Linked DNA regions of Homo sapiens: region 1 is linked to region 2. The links come from fine-mapping of genetic effects on gene expression. A gene starts in region 2. The other region holds a variant in brackets. All regions are shown on one strand. Distances are from middle to middle. Region 1 has its middle 330 kb from the start of LINC01099. Region 2 holds the start of LINC01098 (long intergenic non-protein coding RNA 1098).

Evidence for each region. PIP is the estimated chance that this variant, and not a neighbour inherited with it, causes the effect.
Region 1: its variant is the best candidate, but not a certain one, in a credible set for the expression of LINC01098 in prefrontal cortex (CommonMind, PIP 0.88).

What each region holds. Positions count from the first base shown.
Region 1 is chr4:178,232,092-178,236,381 of GRCh38, reverse strand. No RefSeq gene overlaps it. Among named protein-coding and RNA genes, the nearest start is that of LINC01099, 330 kb to the right of the region's middle. The variant G/T (reference allele first, on the strand shown) is at 1,894.
Region 2 is chr4:177,726,924-177,731,213 of GRCh38, reverse strand. LINC01098 (long intergenic non-protein coding RNA 1098) reads right to left here and starts at 2,457. Exons shown (of 6, transcript NR_028342.1): 1 at 2,197-2,457. RefSeq lists an enhancer at 2,131-3,330.

The DNA.
Region 1 (4,290 bases), 510 kb before region 2:
AGGTCTCTGAAATGGCCACTCTGGGAATGTCTGTCTTTTATGGTTGTAGATAAGCGATGAAATAAGCCCTGGTCTCCCATAGCGCTCCCAGGACTATTAGGATGAGGAAATTCCTGCCTAATAAATTTTGGTCAGACCAGTTGTCCGCTCTCAAACCCTGTCTCCTGATAAGATGTTATCAATGACAATGCGTGCACGAAACTTCATTAGCAATTTTAATTTCGCCCTGGTCCTGTGATCTCGCCCTGCCTCTATTTGCCTTGTAATATTTTACTACTTTGTGAAGCATGTGATCTCTATGACCCACACCCTATTTGTACACTCTCTCCCCTTTTGAAAATCACTAATAAAAACTTGCTGATTTTGTGGCTTGGGGGGCATCATGGAACCTGCTGACATATGATGTCTCCCCCAGATACCCAGCTTTAAAATTTCTCTCTTTTGTACTCTTTTCCATTATTTCTCAGACAGGCTGACACTTAGGGAAATAGAAAAGAACTTACGTGAAATAATGTTGAATTATCAGGGGCGGGTTTCCCAATAATCTCATAAACAGAACCAATGACAAAAAGCACATCATTATCTCAATAGATGCAGAAAAGGCTTTTGATAAAATTCAACATTCCTTCATGTTAGAAACTCTCAATATACTAGGAATTGATGGAACATATCTCAAAATAATAAGAGCTATTTATGACAAACACACAACCAACATCATACTGAATGGGCAAAAGCTGGAAGCATTCCCTCTGAAAACTAACACAAGACAAGGATGCTCCTTCTTACCAGTCCTATTCAACCTAGTATTGGAAGTTCTGGCCAGGGCAATCAGGAAAGAGAAAGAAATAAAGCATATTCAAATAGGAAGAGAGAAAGTCTAACTGTCTCTGTTTGTAGATGACAAGATTCTATATTTAGAAAACCCCATCGTGTCAGCCCCAAAACTCCTTAAGCTGTAAGCAATTTCAGCAACCTCTCAGGATACAAAACCAATGTGCAAAAATCATAAGCATTCCTATACACCAACAAAAGACAAGCAAAGAGCCAAATCATGAATGAATTCCCATTCACAATTGCTACAGAGAGAAAAAAATATGTAGGAATACAGCTTACAAGGGATGTGAAGGACCTCTTCAAGGAGAACTACAAGCCACTTCTCAAGGAAACAAGATACGACACAAACAAATGGAAAAACATTTCATTCTCATGGAAAGGAAGAATCAGTAACATGAAAATGGTCATGCTGCCCAAAGTAATTTATAGATTCAATGCAATTCCTATCAAACTACCATTGATATTCTGCACAGAATTAGAAAAACCTGCTTTAAATTTCATACAGAACCAAAAAAGACAACCCTAAGCAAAAGAACAAAGCTGGAGGCATCATACTACTTGACTTCAAACTATACTACAAGGCTACAGTAACCAAACAGCATGGTACTGGTACCAAAACAGATACATAGGCCAATGGACCAGAACAGAGACCTCAGAAATAATACCATACATCTATAAACATCTGATCTTTGACAAAGCTGACAAAAACATGCAATGGGGAAAGGATTTCCTATTTAATAAATGGTACTGGGAAAACTGGCAAGCCATATGCAGAAAACAGAAACTGGACCCCTTCCTTACACCTTATACAAAAATTAACTCAAGGTGGATTAAAGACATAAATGTAAAACCTCAAACTATAAAAATCCTAGAAGAAAATCTATGCAGTACCATTCAGAACATACAGAATATGGGCATACAGAACATTCAGAATATGGGCACATATTTCATGACAAAAATGCCAAAAGCTATTTCAACAATAGCAAACTAGACAAATGGAATCTAATTAAAGAGCTTCTGCACAGAAAAAAAATAAAAAACCATCATCAGAGTGAACAC[G/T]CAAACTACAGAATGGGAGAAAATGTTTGCAATCTACCCATCTGATGAAGGTCTAATATCCAGAATCTACAAGGTACTTAAACAAATTTTTTATAAGAAAGAATCAAACAACCCCATCAAAAAGTAGGCTAAGAATATGAACAGACACTTCTCAAAAGAAGACATTTATGTGGCCAAGAAACATATGAAAAAAATCTCAACATCATTAGTCATTATAGAAATGCAAATCAAAACCACAATGAGATACCATCTCATTCTAGTCAGAATGGCAATCATTAAAAAGTCAAGAAAAAATAGATGCTGAGGAGGCTGTTGAGAAATGGGAATGTTTTTACACTGTTGGTGGGAATATAAATTAATTCAACCATTGTGGAAGACAGTGTGGCAATTCCTCAAAGATTTAGAACCAGAAATACCAATTCACCTAGCAATCCCATTACTAGGTATATACTCAAAGAAATGTAAATCATTCTACCACAAAGACACATGCACATGTATATTTATTGCAGAACTGTTTGCAATAGCAAAGACTTGGAACCAACCAAAATGATTGGTTTATCCAGTGATAGACTGGATAAAGAACATGTGGTACATATACACCATGGAATATTATGCAGCCATAAAAAGATCATGTCCTTTGCAGAAACATGGGTGAAGCTGGAAACCATCATTCTCAGCAAATTAACACAGGAGCAGAAAACCAAACACTGCATGTTCTCACTCACAGGTGGAATTTCAACCATGAGAACACATGGACACAAGGAGGGGAACATCACACATCGGGGCCTGTGGTGGAGGGAGGGGAGGGAGAGCATCAGGACAAATAGCTAATGCATGTGGGGCTTAAAACCTAGATAATGGGTAGTTAGGTGCAGCAAACCACCATGGCACACATATACCTATGTAACAAATGTGCACATTCTGTACATGTATTCCAGAACTTACAGTAAAATAAAACAAAATAAATTAATAAATAAATAAAAATAAAATGTCAAGGAAATAAGCCAAAATAAAATCAATAGCTATGTTAGGATAACAAAAGCCAAAGTTATTCACTTAGTATATACATTGGACCATAAAAAAAAGAAAAACTTGTGTGATCTATCCTTCAGACTGATTTGTTTCGTCATTTTTGTGTATTTTGTTTTTAATTAGTTTGAATGCAATTGGCAGTTTCATTTTTACCACCAATTCCCCCTGCCCCCTTCGCTTTTTTTTTCTTAACAGTTTAATTCTTAATCACCCTCTGCAGGCATGTGAAAGTGAAATCCTGCATTATTGTTTCTCTTATATAAAGTAGTCAAGATTACATGAGAAGTATTGACATTCTTTTTGTAATACCTCTAGTTGAACTTGCACACATTTTGGAACTAAATTGTGTAACTATCCTACTACTTTCGGTTGATAGTAATAGTATATCTACATAATTCTTAAATTCAACTTCATTATCACCTTGGTTCTTAGTATGGTTCTGTATTAATCAGAAATTTTATATTCTCAGTTGTGCTTTGCCTTTGTAGCTTAAACAATACACTATAGTGAGAACTACTTTTAGAGCAAGACTCACAAAGTCCATTTTTTAATGAACAGATAGAAATTCTTACATCAATTTGGATAAAATATATATTTCTAAGAATAATTTACATAAGAACATAAATAATTTAATATTACATCTAAAGCAAGAAATAAAATTGTTATTAATTATGTTAATGAAGCAAGCAAATGTTAAAACTAAGTTCCATCCTCTTATCTGCTGCATATAGATATGGTAGTAAAAAATGCATTTTCTTTGAATTATTTGAACCTTTGTAAATACAAAAAATGAAAAATACCTTAGAAAAGTGTTTAGCATCTGGTAGGTGAAAAATAATATGGCTTTCATAAAATCATAGCAGAAAACCACATAGGGTAAATGTGCCAATATTAAAAGACAATAACATTAGATGCTTATAACCTTAAAGTGCAGTAACAAAATTAACATTTTAATTGAACTCAGAGTTTATTTTGTAGAAAACCATATCAGTAATGCAGAAGAAAATTTTGAGAACATTTCCACAAAGCAGATTCAAAAGACAAGAGAAAAATAAAACACACAAAAATGATGAGACGTGAAAATCTTAAACTGGAAACACACAATGAGAACTTGAAATACTCCTTTCTAATAAATAATAAATACATCTGAAGAAAAATTCTTTGCTTTGCTTAGTAAGTATTGGAGAAATGCTGCATATTCCAGAAGACTTTGGCTCTTTCCCTAGGTCTATTGTGTCAAAAGTACTTAACAATATAGCTTAAAAATTATGCAAACCTGGCTTTACTTATTCCATTATTTATCTGTTTCTATTTTTTAAAATTTTTCCATAAGTTATTGGGGTAAAGGTGATATTTGATTACATA
Region 2 (4,290 bases):
TAGTGAGAAATATTGAACTATTGAAACACAAGAGCATGTATGAATTGCAAAATAATTATGCTAACTGAAAGAAGCCATACTTCGTGGCTTGATTTATGCAAATGTTGAGAAAACACAACTAATCTATAGAGAAAGAAGCAGATCAGTGGTAGCCCTGGACATGGGTGGGGGAAGAAAAGATATAAGAAAGGGGCACGGGAAATCTTTGGGGATTATGGATGTACTCACTCTTGATTATGGTGATGGTTTTATGGGTGTATACACGTATCAAATCTTATCACTTTATATGCCTTAAGTACATGCAGCTTATTTTATGTCAGTTATATTTTATAACTAATGAAAATACATAAACTCATAGGCCATTGTTTAAGATATTTGTTAAAATTTGTAACATACTGAAGATGAACAGTAGGAAGGGATGCAAATACCAATGACCAATATTCTCTCTAGTTATATTAGATAAAATAAATATTTTATCAGTTTCATTAGGAGCTAAAAAACAGAAAAACAAATCTACACCTTTGAAAGGGATTACATGTTTGAGTCTAAGTTAGTATTTTGTTTGATTTTCAAATTGAAGGTAAAACAAAACGGGCTTTTGGAAATATCCAAAATTGTTTAAACTTATTAAGTGACCACGAAGGTTCGATGACAATGCATACAATCGGGAGAAAGGAGATGTTAGTGGGGTGAAAAAGGATCTGCAATTATAATAATCTAAAATTTTGAGTATTTTCCAAAAGTTATATTTACAAGCCATGAACTCTATAAATATATGGCAATCAAATTCAGTGACTTTGAAAGAACCGAGGGAACTTGTTTGGATCCAAGAGGATCTAGAGTCTAAAAAATTGATTGAATCTTGCATAGAATTTTTTCAAACAAGAAATTTGGAGTTTAAAGAAATTGGATTTATTGTCTACAATTATAACTGATAGTAACTACTGGCAGAAGCAAGCTACAACCCATTCCCTTTATCCAATGCCATTTGCAGTGTATTAACAGTTCAGCGGACGTTAAAGAATCTGTTAAAAGCTCAAAGGCAGGGAGAAGAATCCGTTGATCCTAGAGCTCTCAAAGAATGACAACTTGGTAAAGCTACTCACCAAATAGCAAATAAAATGAGATGACATATGAAGTTTAGGTTTTGGACATTTTTGGTTCTGGGAGTACCAGAGGAAGAGTAAACTCACTCATTTGCTCTCCTGCTAGTAACTGCACACCTGTTTTCTTTGACAATTTATCTCTTCTCTCCTAATTATCTGTGTAATTTGGCTGGAACTGACGCAACTCTCTGGCATCAAGCATGGTGCTAGACTTGGCAATGGGATTAGCATATTCTCTTAGCTTTTTGTTGTTGTTTTGGGTTGACAACCTGGCTCAGAACCAAGGGCCAATCATCAGAATCACGTTGTATTAACTCTAGTCACTCTTATCAGAATTTTTGGGTAAGAAGGCTTCACACCCCTTTCCCACTGTGGCAGATAAACTATGCAACCAAATCTGAGCCGCTAGTAATATTCCTTGACTTTTTTTTTTTTTTTTTTAGATGGAGTCTTGCTCTGTCACCAGGCTGGAGTGCAGTGGTGCCATCTCAGCTCACTGCAGCCTCCACCTCCCTAGTTCAAGCTATTCTCCTGCCTCAGCCTCCCGAGTAGCTGGGATTACAGGCACTCACAACCACACCCAGCTAATTTATGTATTTTTAGTAGAGACAGGATTTCACCATGTTGGCCAGGATGGTCTTGATCTCCTGACCTCGTGATCCGCCTGCCTCGGCCTCCCAAAGTGCCGGGATTACAGGCGTGAGCCACCACTCGTGGCCGTAATATTCCTTGACTTTATAGAGGGAGTCCATCTACAGAGGGAGAAAATAAACCTAAACTACAGAGGAAATACTAGAAATGGAGAGAAAACGCACCCTTATGAAAATATTTGAGTCTCCTAAATTTATCCAACTTGATCTGAGTTTCTGACATTAACAACCAAAATAATAGACTAAAACAAAGTGTTTATAATATTTTCAAACGTTGTATTAAGCTTCACATCTAATATTTTATTTCCCAAATCGCCTAGAATAAGGATGGGAGTTATATTTACTAAATATTCTACTACTTAGAGATCCGAGTTTCAAGAAAAGAACGAATTATACTTTAAAAGGCAGATGTCAATTAAGTCCACTTCATCTTGACATACTTTAATTAGAAATCTTCGGCTCGTGATGACGTAAGGGAAATTTCTGAGTTTGAAGAGTGCTCATGAGAGCATCTGTTAGGTCTAGGGTGAGGTTCCAGCCCATGCTGAGGTCCGAGGGGAGTGGGTGGATGAACGCCAGATAGCTTCAAGAACACTCACGGGCCATAGGCAGGTGAATACGGTTTCTTCAGCAGCTTACTTCCATTAGCTCTCTCACACTCTGCTCTGTCTCGGCTGCTTGAGCCGGCCATTTCCACGCACAGCTGCGCGGCCAGCTCTCCCTTTTCTTCCGGGTCAGAAGCTTAACTCTTTCCTGGTTCCTGGCTTCCCCCTGCCCGCCTTCAAGACGGACAGCTTTGGCTCGCTCTCTCGTTCTCTGGGCACCAGCGCCATGTTGAGCCATGTTATGCCAAGCCGAGCCAAGCCACGCCCAAGAGCCCCTGCACAGCATCAGCAGGGCAGTTATACCTTTTACAAACAATAGGGGCATAGAGCCAAGTATGAGCTTACAGAAACAGGTTATATAACAAGTAGAGGTGTGTGCCTGTGCACCAGTCCCGCTGAGTCATGCAGGCCGGGATGTCTGCCTCGGCCCATTCCTTGACCAAAGCACATCCGTGTAGCTTACAGCATTCACAGCCTCAGCTGAAAGCTCTGGTTTCTAGCTTCCTTTAAAAAAAAAAAAAAATACTGGGAGTTTTCTTATACAAGTCTCCTAAATGTTTTGTGGTGTATAAGCCAAGCTTCTAGGTAGCTTATCTACCATATTACTAGAAACAGTTCTATGTTCAGCTTTTTACATTTTCTTTGATAATCACATAGATATTTTTAACTCTTAAATTTCCTTTAAGTTGAATATGGTTATTTCAAGTGACTATTATTGCCTGGTAAAAGTTATAGTACATAATACAAAGCTAAACAGTGATTATTGTAACTATTGGCGATTATGAATGGTATGGGGATTTGTCCCAGTGAGATTGTGGCACTTGCTGAATGTACCAAAACACATCATGCCATAACATTATGAATGTTATTTTATTCAACTCAAAAATAAAATATAAGCTCTGGATACAAGTGACTATGGAAAGTGGAATAAAAAACGAAATTCTCTGAACATTCTGGATATATTTGCCTTCTCTTTCCAATTGCCAAAATAAGTCTCGTCTAATCAGTTAATGATAAATTGATCCCTCATTGTCTGTTGGCACTGAGAGCATTCTCCTAAGTATAAGCTAGTATCTCCTTGAAATATGTTCATCACCACAATTAAAATGTAAAATAGACTCACTTTTTAAATGAGGATAATCACCGCCACTTTCACTATACTACCCTGTCCATATCAAGAATATTGCTACTTTTGAGTTATCACTCCCAGATGTTCCAAACGAAGTTTGCTGCAGAGAAAAATTATGAAAAATTCAATCATAGACCTAATTTCTTAAGAAAAATAACAGATTATAGATAACAATTGAATTAGGCCATTAGCAGCTAATAGAGTGATGGTAGAATCAGATAATCTACATTAGTAATAGACAAAAATCATCAACTGAAATCAGGGACGGCAGGATTGATAAGTGACACAGTGTGTGTGTGATTCTGGAGTATGCACAGCGTAGGACTTGGTCAAACAAACAAATGAAAACAGAGGAAGAGAGGTAACCATGAAGGAAAGAATCTTCATAAGGCCTGTATCTCTATAATAACAAGAGGCGTTCTGTCAAGGACACCTCGCAATGAAGAATTATGTCCGTTCTACCAGCAGTCAGAACTATTAGAACTTTTAACCTGGCTTAGATGTTTTAAACATTAAATTTTCACAAGGAAGCCTGAAAATTAAAAACAGATCTGTATTCACCTAGTCCCAGACAGCAGTATTCTCTTCTATTTTCTGAAGGGTTTGTCCCAGTGAGATTTTGGCACTTGCTGAAATCTGCCACTCACTGAAAACTGCTGCTAAAATATATATAAAGCAAGCACTGAAATCTGCCACTAAAATATGTATAGAATCTATAGATTGCTGTAACCTCAAGATGATGATTTAACCCCTCTCTGGCAAGTGGAATATAAGGTCATGTCTTTCCTCGAAATGAGTAC